Linked DNA regions of Homo sapiens. The protein of the gene in region 1 purifies or fractionates together with the protein of each later gene. This does not show direct contact. Each region holds a gene or a part of one and is shown in the gene's direction. Other genes may lie near its edges.

Region 1 (8,196 bases):
GATGATATTAAGAGGTGGGCCCTTTTAGAGGTGGTTAGGCCATGAGGGCTTTGTGGATGGAATTAAGGCTCCTATAAAAAAGGCATCATGCATTGCTGGTCTATCTCTTGCCCATCTGCCTTCTGCCATGTGAAGACATGGAGTTCCTCCCCTTAGAAGATACAATCATCACCAGATAACTGAATATGCTGGTGCCTTGATCTTGGGCTTCCCAACCTCCAGAACTGAGAAAATAAATTTCTCTTCTTTATAAATTACCCAGTCTCAGGTATTTTGTTGTTAACAACACTAATGGACTGAGAAACTGATATGAGCTATAACATGGATGAACCTCAAAAACACTAAGCTAATACCAGCTGAATTAGCTAGCCTTGCTGCAAAAATGGTCTTAGTCTCATCTTTGGTGAAAATAAGATAGATTTTTTATTTGTTTGCTTTTGTTTTCTGAGACAGAGCTTCGCTACTGTTGCCCAGGCTGGAGTGCAATGGTGCGATCTCAGTTCACTGCAACTTCTGCCTCCCAGGTTCAAGTGGTTCTCCTGCCTCAGCCTCCCTAGTGTCTGGGCTTATAGGCATGCACCACCACGCCTGGCTAATTTTGTATTTTTAGTAGTGATGGGGTTTCACCATGTTGGTCAGGCTGGTCTCGATCCCCTGACCTTAGGTGATCCACCCGCCTTGGCCTCCCAAAGTGCTGGGATTACAGGCATGAGCTACCATGCCTAGCCTGTGTCTTTTTATTATGAAAGAAATACATGCTTATAAAATATCAAACAGTAAAAAATCTTTAAAAATAAAAGTGCCCTATTTACTCCATCCTTACTTCTAAATACTGAGATTAATTTCACAGTGAACAGAATGGTCACTTGCCATCATATCAATATAAATAGTCTAACGAATATCTTGTTTTCATGAAATTAACAATACTGAGCTATTAAATTGACTTCTGATATCAACTACCTGGACTTAGGCCAAATTTCACAGGTTGAGGGCACGCCCTTCATAAGACTGCCATTACTTCAGATACCAGCCACAAGTTCAGGGGTTCCCAGGGGTGTCCTCACTCCTGATCAACTGACTACAAATTTGGGGTTTCCCATGATCCCTTCAGGTTTTATGATTTATTAGAATGACTCACTGAACTCAGGATAGTGCCATGCTTATGATTGCAGTTTTATTATAGCAAAAGGATACAAATCAGAACCAGCCAGAGGGAGAGATGCATGGGGTAAGGACTGAGAGGGTCCTAAATGGAAATTTCCATTGACCCCATTGATATATCACTTTCTTAGAACTTTAATGTGTGATAATACACAGAGTATTGCCAATCAGGGGAGCTTCAGTGCCCAGAGTTTTTACTGGGGTCCATTATGTAGGCATGATTGATTGAACCATTGGTCACAAGTTGAACTCAGTCTCTAGCTTCCCTTCCCCACCTGGGCTGATATAACATGGCTCAGGGCTTCAATGCGCCAATCACATGACTGGTCTTTCCGGCATGGCCAGCCCCACCCTGAATCACCTTCTTAGCATAAACTATCTTAGAGCCCATCATGAGAGACCTCATTAGCATGAGATATACGGGCCCACCATGAATAACAAAGACAATCCTATTATTTGGAAAATTCCAAGGATTTAAAGGCTACCTCCAGGAAGTGGGAACAAAATCCAGGCAAATTCTTTATTACCTAGGTTAACTGCAACATGATGCAATATTCAGAGAGTGAACGAACAAGTGAAGGCACACTGTCAGCCTCTCAGAGTTGTGGAACTTCCAGTCTTCCCTCATAATAGGTACCATACCACACATGACATGCAATCAATACTAGTAAAGCTTATCTTCCTTAAAACTTTAAATAAATGTAAATAGATGTTTTAGTGTTTTTTTCTCTGTGCCTTAGCAGATCCTCTTTTATACTGCCTAAGGTACTTGTGCCCCATTTTGGAGATCACTGCCCAAGAGATCTCTTGGATAAATAATTTAAAGGGATAAGGGGATAGATTCTATTATTGTTTCCAAATGTCTGTGTTCTCCTTTGTGAAAGGATTAAACTTTGATACCCTTGACATGTCTTTCTGTAGACAAAGTATATTTCCCTGTCTCACTTGCAGGTTTGTTCAGGTAACTTGCATTGGCCAACAGAATCAGAGCAAATACAACGTACACCTTATCTGAATAAAGGATGCTACTACATGGTTCAGCTTACAAGGAGCTATTCTGTGATCTCAGCTTCCAGAATGAGAAAACACTTGGAGAGGGGCCAAGCAGAGTTGCAGTCAACTCCAAGGTGGCCCTAAGCACAAGTGTAATGTAAGTGAGAAATACATGTTTGTTGTTGTAAGCCACTTGGATTTTGGGGTTGTTGGTGATACGGTGTAATCCAGTTATAATGTGACTTATTCCAGGGAGAGAGCTATAGTTTTAGGAATATGGTTTGCTTTCTAATTATGAGCTTAGATTGTAAAGACTCTGAGAATCAATGATTGTTATTTCAGGGAATATGTGTGCATGTATACCTGTCTACGTGCATGTGCTGGTTAGGCCCAATCATTAATTTGTGGAGAACTTAAAATTCCCTTATCCTTCCCTTATGCTTTGTCATTCCCCTTTCCCTTTTCTTACTAAATAATTTGATTCTAAATAAAGCAGTAGCAAGATAGGTGTCTATGGTGAGGTGGCTGGGAGAGCAGCAGTGGCCTGGCACAGGGGGAGAGCTTTAGCAGGGTGAGAAGGGTGACTATGCAGGGTATTGGCTTGACAGTGGTTCTGGAGCCCAAGCAGAGTGAGAAGAACATCCCTTAGGGGTGGGAAAGTGTCCTGGCATGGGGAACCAGAGCGAGGAGATGTCCACTCCTGGCAATGGCCCAGTGCAGGGTGTCAGAGGATAAGATTGAGGAGGGTGTCCATAGTAGGGGTAGCCTGATGTGAGAGGTCAGAGTCTGAGAGGTAAAGAAGGCATCTATGTGGTGGGATAGTCAGGTGCAGTGAGTTGGAGTGCAAGCAGGGTGAGGAGGGCATCCATGTATGAGGTTACCTTCTATAGGGAGTCAGAGTCGCAAATGGCTGAGCAGAGTACTCTAGGGCCAGCCTGGTATGTATGTCAGCATGTGGGAGAGGTGAGGAGGGCACCCATGCCTAGTGTTGGCCCAGTTGGGGTTGGGACTCAGCACTTAAGCAGGATGAGGAGAGAGAGCATCCTTGCAGAGGGTAGACCTGGTGTGGTTTCAGAGACCAAGCATGATAAGGAGGGTGTCCATGTGGTGGGGTAGCCCAGTGAGGGAACTCAGATCCTAAGTAGGGTAAGATGGACATTATTGCTGGGGGATGGAGGACCTGCATGGAGTGTCAGAGCCCAAGCAGGATGAAGAAAGCTTCTATGCAGAGGGAGGACTTGGTGTGGGTTTCAGAAACTTAGCAGGATAAGGAGGTGGTCCATGTGGTAGGATAGCCCGGTGAGGAAATCAGACCCCTCCAGGGTGAGGAGGGCTTCCACCCATAGGGTGACCTTGTGTGGAGCATTAGAACCTAAGGGGGTCTAAGTGGTGACTAGGGGACCAGCATCAGGAATCAGAGTGCAAGCAGAGTGAGGAGGGCTTTCCTGCAGAGGAATGGCCTAGCACAGGGAGTCAGAGCCTTGGCAGGGTGAGGGGGATGTTTGTTGGGGGATGTTCATGGGGGTGGGGAGTGGGCTGGCCCTTTGCCGGCACTCTCAGAGTGAGGAGGGAGGGCATCCGCGCAGGGGATGGTGGCTTGGACTGGGGAGTCAGAGCCCAACTAGGAAGAGAGGGACATCTTAGCAGGTGGGAGATTGACGACATCCAGGAGATTGATCAAATAAGGAATAAGTGAAAGACAATGAAAGCAGGTTTCTTAGTGTCACAGAAAGGAGTTAGGAATGTGGGAAGGGAGAAAACTAGAATGAAACTTGTGGTGTTAGATTGGAATTAGAGGAATTAGTGTGAACTCATGGTGTTCAATATATTTAGATATAGAAATAATATAGAAATATAGACGTGTGTGTTTGTGTGTGTGTGCATGCATGTATGCATGTGTGTTATGCAGGAGAAGGAATCAGCTGGGGGAGATTAAAAGGAGGATCATTTGCGGAGAGTTGAGGGCAGAGAATCCAGGTGTGAGCTGGGAGCATGTCTATGGAGAGATTCCACATGAAGGATTTAATATTTGGAGTGTTTTCTTCTAGGCCTTTGGAAAAAGTCATATTTAGTACTTTGTTTAAGTTTATCCCCTTCTATACTGTGATTCTATATAATTCTCCTAACTGTTAAAAAATAGTCATATATATTGGAGGTGATGTGGCGATTAAAAGGTTAGGGAAGCATGGAATAAAGGCTGGCCTTCCCTCTCCTCCAACATCCAGTAAAGGGAGCTGCTTTCTGGAGATTCTAGCAAGATGAATGCAGACTTTTGATAGAGTTAGTTACCAACAAGGAAACACAGAGAGCATGGAGGAACAGCTTCAGAAGACATGGGGTTTAAACTTTGCCATCCCCACCATGCTACAGGAAACTAATTCGTGAAGGTGGGGAGGCTGATATGTGAGTTTTGTGTCAATGATACTCTTAGAATGTGGTACTAACAAGTTGCCTGATCAGTCAAAATTGATGAGATGAATGCAACATAAGTCTATGTTCAGGATGTTTGGTCAAAAGTAATTACATTTGTGTGTGGAAGCACAGAAATTGTATTTTTTACTGGTGAAAAACGCAGTTCTCCAGAAAGACTCTAAGTGCTTGGTTCTTCTTTTATTTTTCTTCCTCTTTCCGCAACCCTTTGAGTTCCCACTTTTATTGCATTTGCTTGCATTTGTTTCAAGGCTGTGATTCTCACTATACTGGTCCTGAGGAAAGGGCTTCTGTGAACTGCGGTTTTTAGTTTTTATTGTGGTTCTTAGTTCTCATGAGACCCCTCTTGAGGATATGTGCCTATCTGGTGCCTCTGCTCTCCACTAGTTGAGTGAAAGGAAGGAGGTAATTTACCACCATGTTTGGTTCCTGTTTATAAGATGTTTTAAGAAAGATCTGAAACAGATTTTCTGAAGAAAGCAGAAGCTCTCTTCCCATTATGACTTCGGAAATCACTTATGCTGAAGTGAGGTTCAAAAATGAATTCAAGTCCTCAGGCATCAACACAGCCTCTTCTGCAGGTAAAGATCATTTTCTAGGGGTCAGAGTGAATGACGAGGTGAAGGATGAGGAGAGGGTTTATGAATAAGGCATAGGTGTTTTCAGTTGCTGGTTGTCTGATTGAGTATGTCTGGGAAACACAAGAGTCCCAGAAGATTGAGTGGCCTGCAGATACGCATTACGGGGTGTACATTTGTATTGTGGAGAAGAAAAGATTTTGTGCCACTCTCTTCAGCCTCCACTCTGCTTACTGAAACAGAGGTGAGAGAAATCCACTCCAGTTCTGAGCTAAGGCGAGTGCTCTGATGCCCCTGTGTTTTCTGAGGCTGAGTGGGGCTGGGGTTAAGAGATTGAGTACAGCTTCTGAAACCATCAATCCAGATGCAGGGGGTCCTGATGAATTTGTGAGATTTGTTTTTTGATCAGTTAGAGGGAAAGAGTTTGGGTGGACAGTGGTGAGGGTATATTTGTTGGTAATGGATGGAAATGTAACAAAAGGCCTTTGCAAATGAAAGACTAGAAAGTCTACAAAGAAAGTCTCTTAAATCTCCAGGAAACTTTTTCTGAAATCAGAGAACCTATTGCGTGTTGCATCTCTGAGACAGACTCTGTTACGTTTGGGAGTAGATGCAAGGTGATTTGGGTGTCATGTGTGATATCTCAAGTATAGAGCAAAAGAGAGAAAAGAATGTATATAGAGTACAAGAAACTATGGGGGAAGGGGTCAGGACTATAGTTACGCTTTCTAAAATACCTCTGTGAAGGTGTGGAGAGCACTTAGGGAAATTTTTTCTCCTTAAAAACTTTATATAATTTCTTTATTACACAAGTATTAATGTTCATTGTAGAAAAAATTAACCAGAGGTACACAGATATTTGAATTATAATTACTCTTATCATCTAGAGAAAATCATAATTTGCAATTTAGTGAATATCCTTCCACATACAAATACATATAATGTGCATATGTATTTTACTAAAAATGTAATCATATTATATAATACTGAATTTTTTTCCCCCATCATTTGACAAAATATCATAACTCGAAGAAAGTGATTCCTAACCATGAGATGGTAACTAAAAAGACTGACTTTATTCTAAACATGTGATGAGGAATGATTATAAAGATTTATTTGCTATAGCATTATTTAAAGTTGGAAACCATTATTTAAATATATGATGAAATACTATGCAACCATAATAAGGAGTGTTAAAGAAGAAAATATAATGGTATGAAAAATGTTCATGATATAGTGTAAAGGAAAATAATAGGTCAGAAATCAGTATTTATGGTATGTCAATCGTGGGAAAATTTGCATATGTGTATATATACATTCAAAAAATTGCTAGAAAGATATATACCAAAATATTATGGTATATTATAAGTTATATGGCATAACAGTTATCCTCAATTGTAGGAATTCGTACTTTTATGTATTTTTTAAAGTTTCTACAGTGAATATTATTATATCCTTTCTATTCCTATTCTCATGTGATTTCAAATGTCATACCGTTAGTAACTGTGTGTCATCCAAGAAAAGAGAGAGAAAGAGGAGGAGGAAGAAGAGGAAGTAAAGACCAAACTTATTACTGATAAAACTAATTTGGCTTCTTCTTCAGCTTCCAAGGAGAGGACTGCCCCTCACAAAAGTAATACCGGATTCCCCAAGCTGCTTTGTGCCTCACTGTTGATATTTTTCCTGCTATTGGCAATCTCATTCTTTATTGCTTTTGTCAGTAAGTATGCCAACTGAACCAATAAGCAATATCTGCTGTCCATGAACAGAGGGTATCCTTTAAAAACTGACTTTTGAAAATGAGCTTATCCAGAAATCTGAAATGAAATTTTCTCTGGGGAGACATAATTCATGGGAATCCACTGTGAATTTTGCTCTTTATTTGGATTTAGTTACTGTCCTGTAAAAATAATGGAATCCCTTCTCATTTAGAGAAACTGAAGCATAAATGTGGGTGTATGTATTTGTGTTGTAGAGTGAAATCTATGGGGCATCATCTCTATACTAGACACTATGTAAGTGAGGACAAATCTATGTTTCCTTGGTAGCATTTATCAGGCCAGTCTGATTTGAATGCACAGACATTTATGTTTTGGGATGAGCAGGTAGACAACAAGGAGATGGGAAGAAATATTTCAGGAAGAGTTCTCCACTGGCTTTTACTCTGATTATTCCTGCCCTGCTCAAGACTGTGTGGGATCTAAAAGTCAATTTTGCAAATTAGGTGGATTGCTGCGTATCTTTGGCTTTCAGCATTTGTTGAGTTTTATTCCCCCTGGTTCTGTCACCCAGGCTGGAGTGCATTGGTGCAATCTTGGCTCACTGCAACCTCCACCTCCCAGGTTCAAGCGATTCTCCCACCCCAGCCTCCCAAGTAGCTGGGATTACAGGTGTGCATCACTATGCTCAGCTAATTTTTTTTTTTTTTTTTTTTGTATTTTTAGTAGAGACAGGGTTTTCTCATGTTTCCTGGCCTTGTCCTGAACTCCTGGGCTCAAGCAGTCTGCCTACCTCAGCCTCCTAACGTGCTGGGATTACAGGCATGAGTCACTACGCCTGGCTCAAAATTTTTAAAAGGCATAAAAAGCAGTATACATTTAGGTAGATTCTTTATTAATTTCTTTGGTCATTTCATAAGTATTGTCCATCTACTGTATGTCAGGCACTGTGCCAGACAGAGAGTCAAGACAGAGCCACAGCCCCTGGTCTCAAGAAATTTAGAGAATGATAAAATGAACCAGTGGTTATAACATTGTATGGTAAGTGTTGTACAGTTAAGAAGTATAATAAGTGCAAGAGGCTGAGGTAGGCTTTCCGGAGGAGGTGACATCTAGAGCTGTGTGTACCAAGAATGACCTAGAGATATGAGAGAGCATGGAATTTGGGGAAACGTAAGTATGCATGACTGGAACATATGGTGCTAAGTAAAGAACTAAGAAATGAAGTTGTAGGTGGCAGAAAGAAACAGGACTCAGATCATGAAGACTGCTGTATATCATGATAAAGAGTTTGGATTTTTTCCCTCCTAAAGGTT
Region 2 (8,117 bases), on another chromosome or scaffold:
TGGGAGGCCGAGGTGGGCAGATCACTTGAGGTCAGGAGTTCAAGACCAGCCTGGTCAACATGGTGAAACCCCATAAAAATACAAAAATTAGCCAGGTGCGGTGGCACATGCCTGTAATCCCAGCTACTCAAGAGACTGAGGCAGGAGAATCACTTGAGCCTGGGAAGCGGAGGTTGCAGTGAGCCAAGATTGTGACACTGCACTCCAGCATGGACAGCAGAGTGAGACCCTGTCTCAAAAATAAATAAATAAATAACGCAAGTTATTGGTTGTTATGAAAGTAACATCTGACCATTACAAGACATTTTAAAATATAGAAAAGTCTGAAGAGTAATGTCAGATCACCCCTAATGTTACCACCCAGTAGTGACTTGTTTGCGTTTTGGCCCACCCCCTTCCATCAGCCCTTTTCCCATGTATGGATGGTCCTGGGATATTCACTTTGACATTTTGTTTCTCCATTAACATTATCTCCCAGTGCGGTGGCTCACAACCTGTAATCCCAGTACTTTGGGAGGCCAAGACGGGTGGATCTCTTGAACCCAGGAGCTTGAAACCAGTCTGAGCAACATGGCAAAAACCCGTCTCTACAAAAAATACAAAAATTGTCCAGGCGTGGTGGCACACCTACTTGGGTGGTGGAGGTGGGAGGATTGCTTGAGCCCAGTAGTTCAAGGCTGCAGTGAGCCATCATGGTGCCACTACGCTCCAGTCTAGGCAACAAAACAAGACCTTTTCTCAAAAACAAAAAACAAAAAACACCATTATTGCTCAGTAGTTCCTAATATTCGTAAAAATATTTCCCTTCCACCCACCAGCTTTTGAGCTTTTCACTGCTTCTCAGATTTTACACTTAGGTTTGGTGGAGTGAGGCGAAAATAGAATTCATTGCTTGTCCTCATTCCTTGCAAGTGTGTCTGTAATGTCATGAATATGGAAGCTCACGTGGCTGATGGTTGACAGCTTCGACAGTTCTCACCTCTGTCTTAGTCATGCCCGGTTCACCAGTCCAGGCAGCAGGGTAACCAAGGCTGGGCTGGGAGCTGGAAGCAGCAATTGGTGAATGAGTGGGCACCCGCGGATAAAGAGAGAGCAGCCGGTGAAGCGAGGCTGGGCTCACCATGCACCTGGAGATCTCCTCCTGGGGTGCAGGCCCGCGTGTCTCTACTCCGAAGTGCAGGAAATAAACACTGGCACTAATGACCTTCCTGATGTGTGATTCAGCAGCTCCAGATTTGGCATTGCCTCTGGCTCAGCAGATCAGACACAAATCTTCAAGAATGTGTTCATTATGGGAGAACAAATTTTAAGAATGAAATTATCAGTCATTCAAATTGCGGTCTAGGCACTCTGGAGCACTCCAGACCTTAAAGCTGTCCTGCAATGAAGGATGGCCCTGTGCCCTGTAAGGAACAAAAGCAGGTTGTAGGACAGAACTGTGTTAGAGGTGCTTTTTTGCTTATTGTTTTGTTTCTGGCAAAAGGAAAATGAGTGGGAGTTTGTGTGTGAGCACACACAGGCTCCTGACTTTTACGAGGTTTTGGAAAGATGGATATCAAACTTTTAGCAGTGATTTCCCCAGACCTACAAAAGTGTTCAAATACAAGACTTTTTTTTTTTTTTTTACAGTGAGTAGGAATTACTTTTGTAATTAAAAATAAATCAAAGCATGAAAAAAATGTATGATTTTGGACCAGTCAATTCTTAGAATCTTGTATCGCAGGTTTGTACTTACAGGGCATAAATGGAAGGATATTTATTGCAGAATCACTTGTGAGAGCTAAACATAAAACAGACTGTTTATCAGTAGGGCTGGATGGGGCAGTTGGAGACGCCTGTGCTGTGGAGTGGCATGCAGCTGTGGGAGAACACACATATCTATCTGCTCCAACATGAGCTGCTGTCCAAGAGATTTTATTCTGCCAAAAAAACAGGAGCAGGAAAATATGGATGACACGATTCTATTTAAAATCAAGTTCATTTAGGCCGGGTGTGGTGGCTCACGCCTGTAATCCCAGCACTTTGGGAGGCCAAGGCAGGCGGATCACCTGAGGTCAGGAGTTCAAGACCAGGCTGGCCAACAGTGCAAAACCCTGTCTCTACTAAACATATAAAAATTAGCCAGGCATGGTGGCGGGCGCCTGTAATCCCAGCTAGTCGGGAGGCTAAGGCAGGAGAATCACTTGAACCCAGGGGGCAGAGGTTGCAGTGAACTGAGATCCCACCACTGCCCTCCAGCCTAGGAGATAGAGCGAGACTCCATCTCAAAAATAAATAAATAAACAAACACTCTGTCTCAAAAATAAATAAAATAAAGTTCATTCAACATTCGAATTAAGAAAACCATATAAAACTACTGTGTCTATATGTCAGAATAGTTGAATATCGGTTGTTCCATGTGGTTCAACCTAAAATATACATAAAGTTAGGAGAACACGAAACTTAACCATTTATAGCCTTTGGGAAAGAGGACTGTTAGAAATACTATCTTTTGAAAGGCCACATTTCTGTAATACTACAGTTTTTCCCAGTAAGCATGAGTCATGTTGGTAATGTTAAGTAGATAATAAAAGCAGGTGATGGTGTCAGTGTGAGCTCACACCTCTGGTCTTGGCGTGAGAGTGGCCTGGACTCTCCTGCTAACCTTAATAATGAAAAATGAACCAAACCCTAGTAAAAAAGAATGAATCGGCATCCCCAGTGCCCCGAAGATTTCTGGAACACCTGCCTCAGAACCCTTTCAGAGGGGAAGCTGCTAGGTGGGGCCAGAAGAAAGTTTTGTTTGTGGTTTTACTTGATTTCTTCTTATTTGGGGGAGCAGGGGTGGGGCAAGGCTGGGTTTTGGGACAAGGTGCTTTTTTCCTAAGGTGGCAGTAGCATGTTCACTTTTAGAACCGAGTTAGCTCTTTTAGGCCTCACACTGACCAGAAATCACTTGTTTGCTTCCAGATGAGAAGCGCTTTGCCCCCTGGCCATGGGGCCCTCTAAGTCTGATATAGTTATTTGCAAGGTTAAGGAGAAAACAGAACACCGTGGTTTTCTGGGGATGTGGGAAAGTGGCTCTCTAGAGAACTCACCTTCCACCAGGCTTAGGGTCAGCGTCCTGAAACGGCACCACTTTGTCTTACATTCAATTGCTTTGACGTGTGGGGTGCTTGGGGCCACGCAGCCTGGGAGGAGCCAGCCCTGCCTGGAGTCCTGCTCAGAATCTGAGGTCACCTCAGCCTGCCTGGTGTGCCCCCTGTACCTTTCTGTAAATCCTGTAGAGGGAGACAAAGAGTTACTTTTCCCTGTGATTTAAAAAAAAAAAAAATGCAGGGAAGGTAGCTGGTGGCCTTGAATCTTGGTACCCAGTGCTTTCCAAGAATTCTTGTGCCCCTGTTGCATATTGTATTGGGTCAAGAGCATGGACTACTGGTGCTCTTTTAAATCTAGTGCATGTTTAATTATTACCCTAAAAGAATCTGTCATCATTAGATAAAAATGTGAAGAAAACATTAAAATGTTGAATGAGGAAAAGGATCGTGTCTAATCCCAGTACCAAGTTTCACTCACCTTGGACAAGGGTCTCCAGTGAATTTCATGAACTTGTCAGTAGCTGGGGAGACCTTGATAAAAGTGAAATTGGGCAGAGCACCTATCTCCGATGGTATTCAAACATCAGGAACAGAAAGCGGATGTGGTCGTTATTAAGATCATTAGAATTCATTTACTTTTTATACTGCATATTCCCGCTTGTTTCCAGGTTGGGCAGTTTTGGGTTTTGTTTCCCCAGGATGCAGCCGGGTGTGCATTTTTTGGTGCATCATGTTTTTTAAGGTGTGGTGTGCCCTTTTACCCCATTGTGTAACTTAGGTGATGACACACGTGCACGTGAAGATTTTGGCTGGAGGTGGAGAGTGGGTTGGTAGAGAACTTAGAGTAGAAAAGGGATGTTTTCTGAAAAATCACGAAAGCCTTATTGTTCACAGGTCCCCGAGACAGCAGCAAGATGGGGATTCTGTACATCTTGGTCCCCAGCATCGCAATTCCACTGGTCATCGCTTGCCTTTTCTTCTTGGTTTGCATGTGCCGGAATAAGCAGAAGGCATCTGCGTCCACACCGCAGCGGCGACAGCTGATGGCCTCGCCCAGCCAAGACATGGAAATGCCCCTCATTAACCAGCACAAACAGGTCTCCATGCCTTACATTTTCTACCCGGGTGGCTCTTCCAGGTTTAATCCTCAGGGGTTGTTTCCCCCAACATTAAATGTCTTAATTTACTTGATACATAGCACATAATTATTTTAAACTCCGCTTCATTTTGCCATTTTTTTTTTCTGTAAACTAGATCAGGACATGTGTGCTTTAGAAAATAAATGGCAGGCGTGTTGGGAATTCACTGCCCCAGAGTCCATGGGCCTCCTTCTGCCTGGACCATGCTGCCCCTGTGGGCCCCAGCGAGTGTCCTCACTGTCCAGGTGCCTCAGCTCTGCCCAGAAGACACACAAGAACAACAGGGCTCCAATGCTCCCCATAATTTTTCTTGACACTTTTGGGTTGGGTTGGTTTTGCTTTGTTTTGTTTACAGGGAAGGATAGGAGAATAGCTCTTAAATGGGAGTAGGTGGACAGGCTACCACTAAAAGGCCACCCCTCATCCCAGAGCAGCCTTAGATGGGGGTGGGGCACTGAAATACAACAGATGAGAACATGTGCTGCAGCCTCTCCAGGTTGTGTTGTAAAAGGGCATTTACACTCATTGCAAGCCGTAGGTAACATCATTCTCAGCCAGCTTTGCAGGGGCTCTTCAAGGTGGCCAGGAGGGAGCTGATGCACTTGGCTCTTCAGTCCCAGAGTCGGTGAGAGTTTGCTATGGGCAGGGGCTGGCCAGCGAGGAGGGCACAGAGCCCCGGGGCTTGCACGGAGGCCCAGGAACCTCTGGGGAGGATGAGGGCTGGCCACACGGGAGGAGCTGGTGTCATAGAGGCCGAGAGAGATGCAGGGTTCTCAGGGCTCCTATCACCTGTGGGGTACTCTTTCCAGGAACATGTTTAACAGAGACCCTAGTCAAGAGGCCCATGGACAGGCCCATTGAGGGAACCTCTGTAGAACAACTGGCTTGGACTCTTATAAGTGACAAAATTGCCAAGACAAAAATGTCGTGGGAAAGCCTCTGTGGGGTCCATGAGAAAAAGACATCACATCTCACGTGATGTGTCGGCACACATGGGGGTTGGAGGGAACCTGGCAGGGTATGTCCGGGGCAGCCCCAGGGCAGCTGGTGCCTGGGCCTGGCTGTAGGGTGTGTGTGTGTGTCCACACATGCACAAGTGGGAAGGAAGTCAGTGTGTCCCAGCTGGATTTTGGAGGGACCTTATTTGTAGCCTGGTTGGGATCTGTGGAAGATTGCAGATGGGAAGCAACCTTGGCATCAGAGCCGTATTTAAGGTTAACTAGAGAGCTGTGGGTGGGCAGGCCAAGGCTGGGTGGGCAAAACCAGCGGGTCTTCTGCAAGGCCCCCCTAGTCGTGGCCGCACAGGGACTCCACTCCTCCCGGCTGCTCTGCAGCTTCCTCCAGGGCTGCGGTGACAGTGATGTTTCACGTGGGGCTTTTCTTCTTGACAGGCCAAACTCAAAGAGATCAGCCTGTCTGCGGTGAGGTTCATGGAGGAGCTGGGAGAGGACCGGTTTGGGAAAGTCTACAAAGGTCACCTGTTCGGCCCTGCCCCGGGGGAGCAGACCCAGGCTGTGGCCATCAAAACGCTGAAGGACAAAGCGGAGGGGCCCCTGCGGGAGGAGTTCCGGCATGAGGCTATGCTGCGAGCACGGCTGCAACACCCCAACGTCGTCTGCCTGCTGGGCGTGGTGACCAAGGACCAGCCCCTGAGCATGATCTTCAGCTACTGTTCGCACGGCGACCTCCACGAATTCCTGGTCATGCGCTCGCCGCACTCGGACGTGGGCAGCACCGATGATGACCGCACGGTGAAGTCCGCCCTGGAGCCCCCCGACTTCGTGCACCTTGTGGCACAGATCGCGGCGGGGATGGAGTACCTATCCAGCCACCACGTGGTTCACAAGGACCTGGCCACCCGCAATGTGCTAGTGTACGACAAGCTGAACGTGAAGATCTCAGACTTGGGCCTCTTCCGAGAGGTGTATGCCGCCGATTACTACAAGCTGCTGGGGAACTCGCTGCTGCCTATCCGCTGGATGGCCCCAGAGGCCATCATGTACGGCAAGTTCTCCATCGACTCAGACATCTGGTCCTACGGTGTGGTCCTGTGGGAGGTCTTCAGCTACGGCCTGCAGCCCTACTGCGGGTACTCCAACCAGGATGTGGTGGAGATGATCCGGAACCGGCAGGTGCTGCCTTGCCCCGATGACTGTCCCGCCTGGGTGTATGCCCTCATGATCGAGTGCTGGAACGAGTTCCCCAGCCGGCGGCCCCGCTTCAAGGACATCCACAGCCGGCTCCGAGCCTGGGGCAACCTTTCCAACTACAACAGCTCGGCGCAGACCTCGGGGGCCAGCAACACCACGCAGACCAGCTCCCTGAGCACCAGCCCAGTGAGCAATGTGAGCAACGCCCGCTACGTGGGGCCCAAGCAGAAGGCCCCGCCCTTCCCACAGCCCCAGTTCATCCCCATGAAGGGCCAGATCAGACCCATGGTGCCCCCGCCGCAGCTCTACGTCCCCGTCAACGGCTACCAGCCGGTGCCGGCCTATGGGGCCTACCTGCCCAACTTCTACCCGGTGCAGATCCCAATGCAGATGGCCCCGCAGCAGGTGCCTCCTCAGATGGTCCCCAAGCCCAGCTCACACCACAGTGGCAGTGGCTCCACCAGCACAGGCTACGTCACCACGGCCCCCTCCAACACATCCATGGCAGACAGGGCAGCCCTGCTCTCAGAGGGCGCTGATGACACACAGAACGCCCCAGAAGATGGGGCCCAGAGCACCGTGCAGGAAGCAGAGGAGGAGGAGGAAGGCTCTGTCCCAGAGACTGAGCTGCTGGGGGACTGTGACACTCTGCAGGTGGACGAGGCCCAAGTCCAGCTGGAAGCTTGAGTGGCACCAGGGCCCGGGGTTCGGGGATAGAAGCCCCGCCGAGACCCCACAGGGACCTCAGTCACCTTTGAGAAGACACCATACTCAGCAATCACAAGAGCCCGCCGGCCAGTGGGCTTGTTTGCAGACTGGGTGAGGTGGAGCCCTGCTCCTCTCTGTCCTCTGACACAGAGAGCTGCCCTGCCTAGGAGCACCCAAGCCAGGCAGGGGGTCTGGCAGCACGGCGTCCTGGGGAGCAGGACACATGGTCATCCCCAGGGCTGTATACATTGATTCTGGTGGTAGACTGGTAGTGAGCAGCAAATGCCTTTCAAGAAAATAGGTGGCAGCTTCACTCCATGTCATATATGGAGTGAATATTTCAAAACGTTGGGAATAAGGGCCTGCAAAAGGCAGCGAGGAGGCACCTCGGGTCTTGAGGTTCCTGACAACCGATCTGGTCTGTTGGTTTGAGGATGAAGGGGCTCCATTTCTGCTGCCTCCCTGCTGAGAATATTCTCCCTTTAGCAGCCAAAGATTCGCTGGAACGGAGGCTGCCCTCTGCTGCCTGTTGGGGTCGGAAGACAAGGGGCTTCTGAAATGGGAGTTCCTGAGATACAACAAAATGTGTGCCTTCAAAGAAACTGACAGCTTTGTATTTGGTGAAATGGTTTTAATTATACTCCATGTGTATTTTGCCCACTTTTTTTGGGAATTCAAGGGAAAGTGTTTCTTGGGTTTGGAATGTTCAGAGGAAGCAGTATTGTACAGAACACGGTATTGTTATTTTTGTTAAGAATCATGTACAGAGCTTAAATGTAATTTATATGTTTTTAATATGCCATTTTCATTGAAGTATTTTGGTCTTAAGATGACTTTAGTAATTTAACTGTTTATGTTACCCACGTTGGGATCCAGTTGGTCTTGGTTTGCTTCTCTCTGTACCACGTGCACATGAGGTCCATTCATTTTACAGCCCCTGTTACACACAGACCCACAGGCAGCCGTCTGTGCCCCGCACACATTGTTGGTCCTATTTGTAAATCCCACACCCGGTGTATCCAATAAAGTGAAACAAAGCATGT
Region 3 (7,019 bases), on another chromosome or scaffold:
CGTCTTAGGTATCTTAGAGAAACTCATACATGTGTACACTTATAAAAGTGTTCATAATAACGCTGTTCTTAATAGCCCCAAACTGGAAACAACCCATTGGCATTAGAATTAAAGTATGAGGCCAGGCGTGGTGGCTCACGCCTGTAATCCCAGCACTTTGGGAGGCTGAGGCAGGCTGATCACTTGAGGTCAGGAATTCAAGACCAGCCTGACCAATGTGGTGAAACCCCATCTCTACTAAAAATACAAAAATTAGCTGGGTGTCATGGTGGGCACCTGTAATCCCAGCTGCTTGGGAGGCTGAGGCACGAGAGTCACTGGAACTTGGGAGGCAGAGGTTGCAGTGAGCTGAGGTCATGCCACTGTACTCCAGCCTGGGTGACAGAGCAATACCCTGTCTCAAAAAAAAAAAAAAAAAAAAAAAAAAGAATTAAAATATGAGATGTTTATAATGAAAAACAGACCATGTCCAGTGATTTAAAAAAATTAACCTGGCTGGCCCAGTGGCTCACACCTGTGATCCCAGCAGTTTGGGAGGCAGAGATGGAAGGATTGCTTGATCCCAGGAGTTTGAGACCAGCCTGAGCAACATAAGGAGACCCCCGTCTCTACAAAAAAATACAAAAATAAAAAAGGCTGGGATTGATGGTACACATTTTTGTCCCAGCTACACAGGAGGCTGAGTTGGGAGGATCACTTGAGTCCAGGAGGGCGAGGCTGCAGTGAACCGTGATCACCATCACTGTACTCCAGCCTGGGTGACAGAGTGAGACCCTATCTCAAAAAATAAAGGCCGGGCACAGTGGCTCATGTCTGTAATCCCAGCACTTGGGAGGCTGAGGAGGGTGGATCATGAGGACGAGATCGAGACCATCCTGGCCAACATGATGAAACCCCATCTCTACTGAAAATACAAAAATTAGCTAGGCGTGGTAGTGCGCGCCTGTAATCCCAGCTACTTGGGAGGCTGAGGCAGGAGAATCACTTGAACCCAGCGGGGTGGAGTTTGCAGTGAGCCGAGATCGCACCACTGCCCTCCAGCGTGGGTGACAAGAGCGAGACTTGGTCTCAAAACAAGCAAACAAACAAAAGAATCTTACAATGTTGTGAAAAAAAAAAAAAATCCAGGCACAAAAGAGTATACATTTTGTGTGCTTCCAGTTTTAATCTGGCTCTGAAACAGGCAAAATGGAATTATATTATCTAGGAACATGTAAGTGGTAAACTACAAAGAACAAGAAAGAAATTATCACAAAAGTCAGGGTAGTGGTTACTCCTTGAGGGGAGGGAGAACATATGGTTGGGAAGGAACTCTTGAGTGCTAGCATTGTTGGATTGTGGTTTTTTTTTTTTTTTCCCACAAAAAAATGTAAGCCAGAAGTTTTCTTACCTTTCTACCTTCTAGCCTCCAGTTCCGTTCCTTGGAGGCAGCCAGTCATATGGGTCTATATGCCTTAACACATACACACACGTGCGTGCACACACACAGACACACACGCTATATATATATATATATATATATATATATATATATATATTTTTTTTTTTCTTTTTTTTTTTTTTTTTTTAATAGAGTCTCACTATGTTGCCCAGACTGGTCACAAACTCCTGAGGTTAAGCAGTCCTCCTGCCTCAGCCTCCCAAAGTGCTGGGATTACAGGCATGAGTCACCATGCCCAGCATACACACACATATTTTTAACACAACTAGTAGAAAAGATAGACTTTTGAAGTAAAATGAAAAAGAAACAACCCATAAAGATATCATCTAAGATCAGGCATGGTGCCACTCACCTGAAATCCCAGTGCTTTGGGAAGCTAAGGCAGGAGGATCGCTTGAGGTTAGATATTTGAGACCAGCCTGGGCAACGTAGCTAGACACCGTCTCTACCAAAGAAATATATATATATATTTTTTGAGATGGAGTTTTGCTCTTATTGCCCAGGCTGGAGTGCAATGGCGCAATCTCGGCTCACCACAACCTCCGCCTGCTGGGTTCAAGCGATTCTTCTGCCTCAGCCTCCCCAGTAGCTGGGATTATAGGCATGTGCCACCACACCCAGCTAATTTTTGTATTTTTAGTAGTGCTGGGTTTATCCACGTTGATCAGGCTGGTCTCGAACTCCCAATCTCAGGTGATCCACCTGCCTTGGTAAAGAATTTTTTTTTTTAATTAAAAAGTAAGCTGGGGGCTGGGCGCAGTGGCTCATGCCTGTAATCCCAGCACTTTGGAAGGCCGAGGCGGGCGGATCACAAGGTCAGGAGATCGAGACCATCCTGGCTAACATGGTGAAACCTCGTCTCTACTAAAAATACAAAAAAATTAGCTGGGCGTAGTGGCAGGCACCTGTAATCCCAGCTACTCGGGAGGCTGAGTCAGGAGAATGGCGTGAACCCGGGAGGCAGAGCTTGAAGTGAGCCGAGATCATGCCACTGCACTCCAGCCTGGGCAACAGAGCAAGACTCCGTCTCAAAAGAAAAAAAAAAAAAGTAAGCTGGGCATGGTGATGCACAGCTATAGTCCTAGCTACTTGGAAGGCTGAGGTGGGAGGATTGCTTGAGCCCAGGAGTTTAGAGGCTGCAGTGAGCTGTGATCATGTCACTGCACTCTAGCCTGGGTGACAGAGCAAGACCCTGTCACTTGAAAATAAAAAATATCAGCTATGATTTCTGCCCACTTATTTTTCACTGGACAAGTGGTTACTATGTATGTGCCCTTAGGCCCATGTGCCACTCACTTAATCTGGCACTTGCTGTGTGTCAGCATGGTGTCAGGCACTTTAGTTTGCTTAGTTCAGTCTTCTAACAACCCAGGAAGGCAGGTACTGTTATTATCCCCATTTTACAGAGAAGGAAGCTGAGGCTGTTGTGCTTCTGGGCTTCCTACGCAGCACACCAATAGTGTTGAAACGCTACCAAGGGTTGTGTTGAGGGTGGTCATCTTGATGCCTATTCCTGGGCTGCTCTAACAGGCCCCTTTATCTCTCCAGGTGGCCCTATGCACCCAGGTAGCCCTGGGCATGGAGCACCTGTCCAACAACCGCTTTGTGCATAAGGACTTGGCTGCGCGTAACTGCCTGGTCAGTGCCCAGAGACAAGTGAAGGTGTCTGCCCTGGGCCTCAGCAAGGATGTGTACAACAGGTAGAAGGGCATGCGTGGGGTGGGGGCTCCCCATTTTTTCCCAGAGGGTGAGGGGCAGAGGACAGATAGTTTGGGGGGTGTGGGAAAGGGTTTAGTGCCTGCTTAGTCCAAAGCTGGAGGGCCTGGGATAGGGAAGAGCTTTCTCATCCTTTTTCCAAGGGTGCAGCAGGCTTCCCACCCAGTGCACACCCTTGGTGGTTGTAAAATGTCTCTAGCGATTAAATAAATAAATAAACCTTTTTTAAAAAATAGGCAAATTTGATAAGGATTTATATATAATCTATTTATATGGCTCTCTCTGTAACTTCCTGAATTCAGTCATTATTATTTTGAAGTCTGAGACTTATGCCTCAGCACCCATGCCAGAGCTTGCTCTAGACAGCCTACGAGGGCTCTGCAGCGCTGCCGGGAACATCACCCTGAGTCCCTCTGGTTCCAGGTCACCCCCATTTGTCTGACTATAGCTGTAGTGAGGATTGGTTTATCACTAATAAAGCTCTTTCCATTTAACAGTTCTTAGTTTTTACATTTTTACAACCAATATAGAAAGTATGTATGACTATTAACTTTTCTGTTAACATTTAGGCAAAGTTTGATTCTTAATGGAAATTTTTTAACCATCAAACCTCTCGTGTGGTTACCTCCAGATTTTGTCTAGTGTACTCCCATGCTCAGCACGCATGTGACCAATTTCTTGATGTCTGTATGTAGAAAGGCTGGGCCCCCGGCTTGGGGATGCGTTCCAGATGGGGAGATGAGGGTGCAGCGCCAGGCCACGCTCCCACCCCACCTCACCCCTGGGTTGCTTCTCTCCTGCAGTGAGTACTACCACTTCCGCCAGGCCTGGGTGCCGCTGCGCTGGATGTCCCCCGAGGCCATCCTGGAGGGTGACTTCTCTACCAAGTCTGATGTCTGGGCCTTCGGTGTGCTGATGTGGGAAGTGTTTACACATGGAGAGATGCCCCATGGTGGGCAGGCAGATGATGAAGTACTGGCAGGTAGGCAGCCTTGCTGCTAGGGGATGATTCCAGATGGGCCCCAGATGGGGCCTACTCAGGGCCCCAGGGCTGGTTCAGCCTACCTCCCTCTCAGGGCTGCTACTGAGCAGGCACACAGATACAACCACTCTGGTTGTTAAAATACTGCAATACTTTGTTTTTCTTTTGAGACGGAGTGTCGCCCTGTCGCCCAGACTGGAGTGCAGTGGCCCGATCTCCGTTCACTGCAACTTCTGCCTCCTGGGTTCAAGCGATTCTCCTGCCTTAGACTCCCTAGTAGCTGGGATTACAGGCACGCACCTCCACTCCCTGGCTAATTTTTGTATTTTTAGTAGAGATGGGGGGGCTTCACCATGTTGGTCAGGCTGGTCTCAAACTCCTGACCTTGTGATCCACCCGCCTCGGCCTCCCAAAGTGCTGGGATTGCAGGCGTGAGCCACCACACCTGGCCGAAAATACTGCAATACTTCTATATTGGTTGGTAAATAGCCTTTGCCCCCAGTGCCCACTCCAGCCACTCTGACGCCTGTCCGCCAGCCCACTTCAGCTCCTATGCATGGACCCCGTCCTACCAGCCAGAGTGAGTGGGGCCAGGGGAGTCATCTTTTTCCGTTGCGGGTACCCACCTGCCGCTGGCCAGCATTGCCCCAGAGGCATCCTTGGGTGGCTGCTTGTATAAACTGCAAGGTCCACAAAGTGTTGAACAAGTTGTTGAATGTTTTGGCCAACACTGCACCTGCTGTCTTCCCTACAGATTTGCAGGCTGGGAAGGCTAGACTTCCTCAGCCCGAGGGCTGCCCTTCCAAACTCTATCGGCTGATGCAGCGCTGCTGGGCCCTCAGCCCCAAGGACCGGCCCTCCTTCAGTGAGATTGCCAGCGCCCTGGGAGACAGCACCGTGGACAGCAAGCCGTGAGGAGGGAGCCCGCTCAGGATGGCCTGGGCAGGGGAGGACATCTCTAGAGGGAAGCTCACAGCATGATGGGCAAGATCCCTGTCCTCCTGGGCCCTGAGGCCCCTGCCCTAGTGCAACAGGCATTGCTGAGGTCTGAGCAGGGCCTGGCCTTTCCTCCTCTTCCTCACCCTCATCCTTTGGGAGGCTGACTTGGACCCAAACTGGGCGACTAGGGCTTTGAGCTGGGCAGTTTTCCCTGCCACCTCTTCCTCTATCAGGGACAGTGTGGGTGCCACAGGTAACCCCAATTTCTGGCCTTCAACTTCTCCCCTTGACCGGGTCCAACTCTGCCACTCATCTGCCAACTTTGCCTGGGGAGGGCTAGGCTTGGGATGAGCTGGGTTTGTGGGGAGTTCCTTAATATTCTCAAGTTCTGGGCACACAGGGTTAATGAGTCTCTTGGCCCACTGGTCCCACTTGGGGGTCTAGACCAGGATTATAGAGGACACAGCAAGTGAGTCCTCCCCACTCTGGGCTTGTGCACACTGACCCAGACCCACGTCTTCCCCACCCTTCTCTCCTTTCCTCATCCTAAGTGCCTGGCAGATGAAGGAGTTTTCAGGAGCTTTTGACACTATATAAACCGCCCTTTTTGTATGCACCACGGGCGGCTTTTATATGTAATTGCAGCGTGGGGTGGGTGGGCATGGGAGGTAGGGGTGGGCCCTGGAGATGAGGAGGGTGGGCCATCCTTACCCCACACTTTTATTGTTGTCGTTTTTTGTTTGTTTTGTTTTTTTGTTTTTGTTTTTGTTTTTACACTCGCTGCTCTCAATAAATAAGCCTTTTTTACAACCTGTTTCTGAGATTCATTCCCTGCTCTTGCTCGTGGAAGATGTTCCTTTTTCCCCCGCTGATGAGAAGGGGCCGTGTGCAGGCCGGGTGCAGTGGCTCATGCCTGTAATCCCAGCACTTTGGGAGGCTGAGGCCAGTGGATCACCTGAGGTCAGGAGTTCGAGACCAGCCTGGCCAAAAAGGTGAAACCCCTGTCTCTACTGAAAATATAAAAATTAGCTGGACATGGTGGCAGGCGCCTGTAATCCCAGCTACTTGGGAGGCTGAGGCAGGAGAATCGCTTGAACCCAGGAGATGTAGGTTGCAGTGAACCGAGATCACACCACTGCACTCCAGCCTGGGTGACAGCGAGACTCTGTCTAAAAAAAAACAAAAAAAAAAAGAGAAAAATGAAAGGGCCATGTGCCTTCATGGAGTCTGGTGGGGCTTGGACAGGATGAACCGGTGGATATTGGTTCTTCTCTCCAGTTTGCAGGGCAGGTGAGCATGCAGGCATGAAGAAGGCAAGATCACCTGTTGTCTGTGCAACCCTGTGCTGTCCTCTGACTGTCACCTAGACGGGCCTAATCCTTGTGCTCAGATGGGGAGGGTAGAAGCGTGAAGGGGAGCAAGTTAGAGTAGGATTGGAGAAGGAGTTAGTGACAGACTCAGGTCTCTGAGTCCTTTCAAGACCCTAGGAGGGAAGTGAAGTAGGTAGAACCAAGCAGAGAGACGGTGCTTAATGCCTGGATCTTGTGTCCTCACCTATCCTCTGCCTCATTCCAGTAACTTCAGCCTGGTTCACCATCCAAAAGAAACGAGTCCTGAACTCCAAAACTGCTCTAGTTCCTTTACTCCTCACCAAACTTCTGAATAATAAAAATAACAGCAGGCTGGACATGGTGGTTCACACCTGTAATCCTAATACTTTGGGAGACTGAGGCAGGAAGATCACTTGGGACCAGGAGTTTGAGACCAGCCTGGCCAACATAGTGAGACCCTGTCTCTACAAAAAATTTAAAAATTAGCCAGGTGTGGCGACATGCACTTGTAGTCCTAACTACTGAGGAGGCTGAGGCAGGAGGATCATGTGAGCCCAGAAGTTTGAGGTGGCAGTGAGCTATGATCACAACACTGCACTCCAGCCTGGGT

The links.
Region 2: the proteins of CLEC4A (region 1) and ROR2 purify together in Homo sapiens (co-immunoprecipitation; 2 studies listed by BioGRID and IntAct, with this or other methods). This does not show direct contact.
Region 3: the proteins of CLEC4A (region 1) and PTK7 purify together in Homo sapiens (co-immunoprecipitation; 2 studies listed by BioGRID and IntAct, with this or other methods). This does not show direct contact.

Annotation. Positions count from the first base shown.
Region 1 is NC_000012.12:8,118,796-8,126,991, forward strand, and holds the start of CLEC4A (C-type lectin domain family 4 member A), read left to right. Parts: upstream 1-4,821; 5' UTR 4,822-5,083; coding exon 5,084-5,165; intron 5,166-6,765; coding exon 6,766-6,882; intron 6,883-7,681; exon of another isoform or gene 7,682-8,196. UniProt on the Homo sapiens protein: C-type lectin receptor that binds carbohydrates mannose and fucose but also weakly interacts with N-acetylglucosamine (GlcNAc) in a Ca(2+)-dependent manner. Involved in regulating immune reactivity.
Region 2 is NC_000009.12:91,722,598-91,730,714, reverse strand, and holds the end of ROR2 (tyrosine-protein kinase transmembrane receptor ROR2 isoform 1 precursor), read left to right. Parts: intron 1-3,971; coding exon 3,972-4,174; exon of another isoform or gene 4,175-4,268; intron 4,269-5,607; coding exon 5,608-7,053; 3' UTR 7,054-8,114; downstream 8,115-8,117. UniProt on the Homo sapiens protein: Tyrosine-protein kinase receptor which may be involved in the early formation of the chondrocytes. It seems to be required for cartilage and growth plate development. Phosphorylates YWHAB, leading to induction of osteogenesis and bone formation.
Region 3 is NC_000006.12:43,155,828-43,162,846, forward strand, and holds the end of PTK7 (inactive tyrosine-protein kinase 7 isoform a precursor), read left to right. Parts: intron 1-2,989; coding exon 2,990-3,141; intron 3,142-3,960; coding exon 3,961-4,139; intron 4,140-4,893; coding exon 4,894-5,054; 3' UTR 5,055-5,888; downstream 5,889-7,019. UniProt on the Homo sapiens protein: Inactive tyrosine kinase involved in Wnt signaling pathway. Component of both the non-canonical (also known as the Wnt/planar cell polarity signaling) and the canonical Wnt signaling pathway.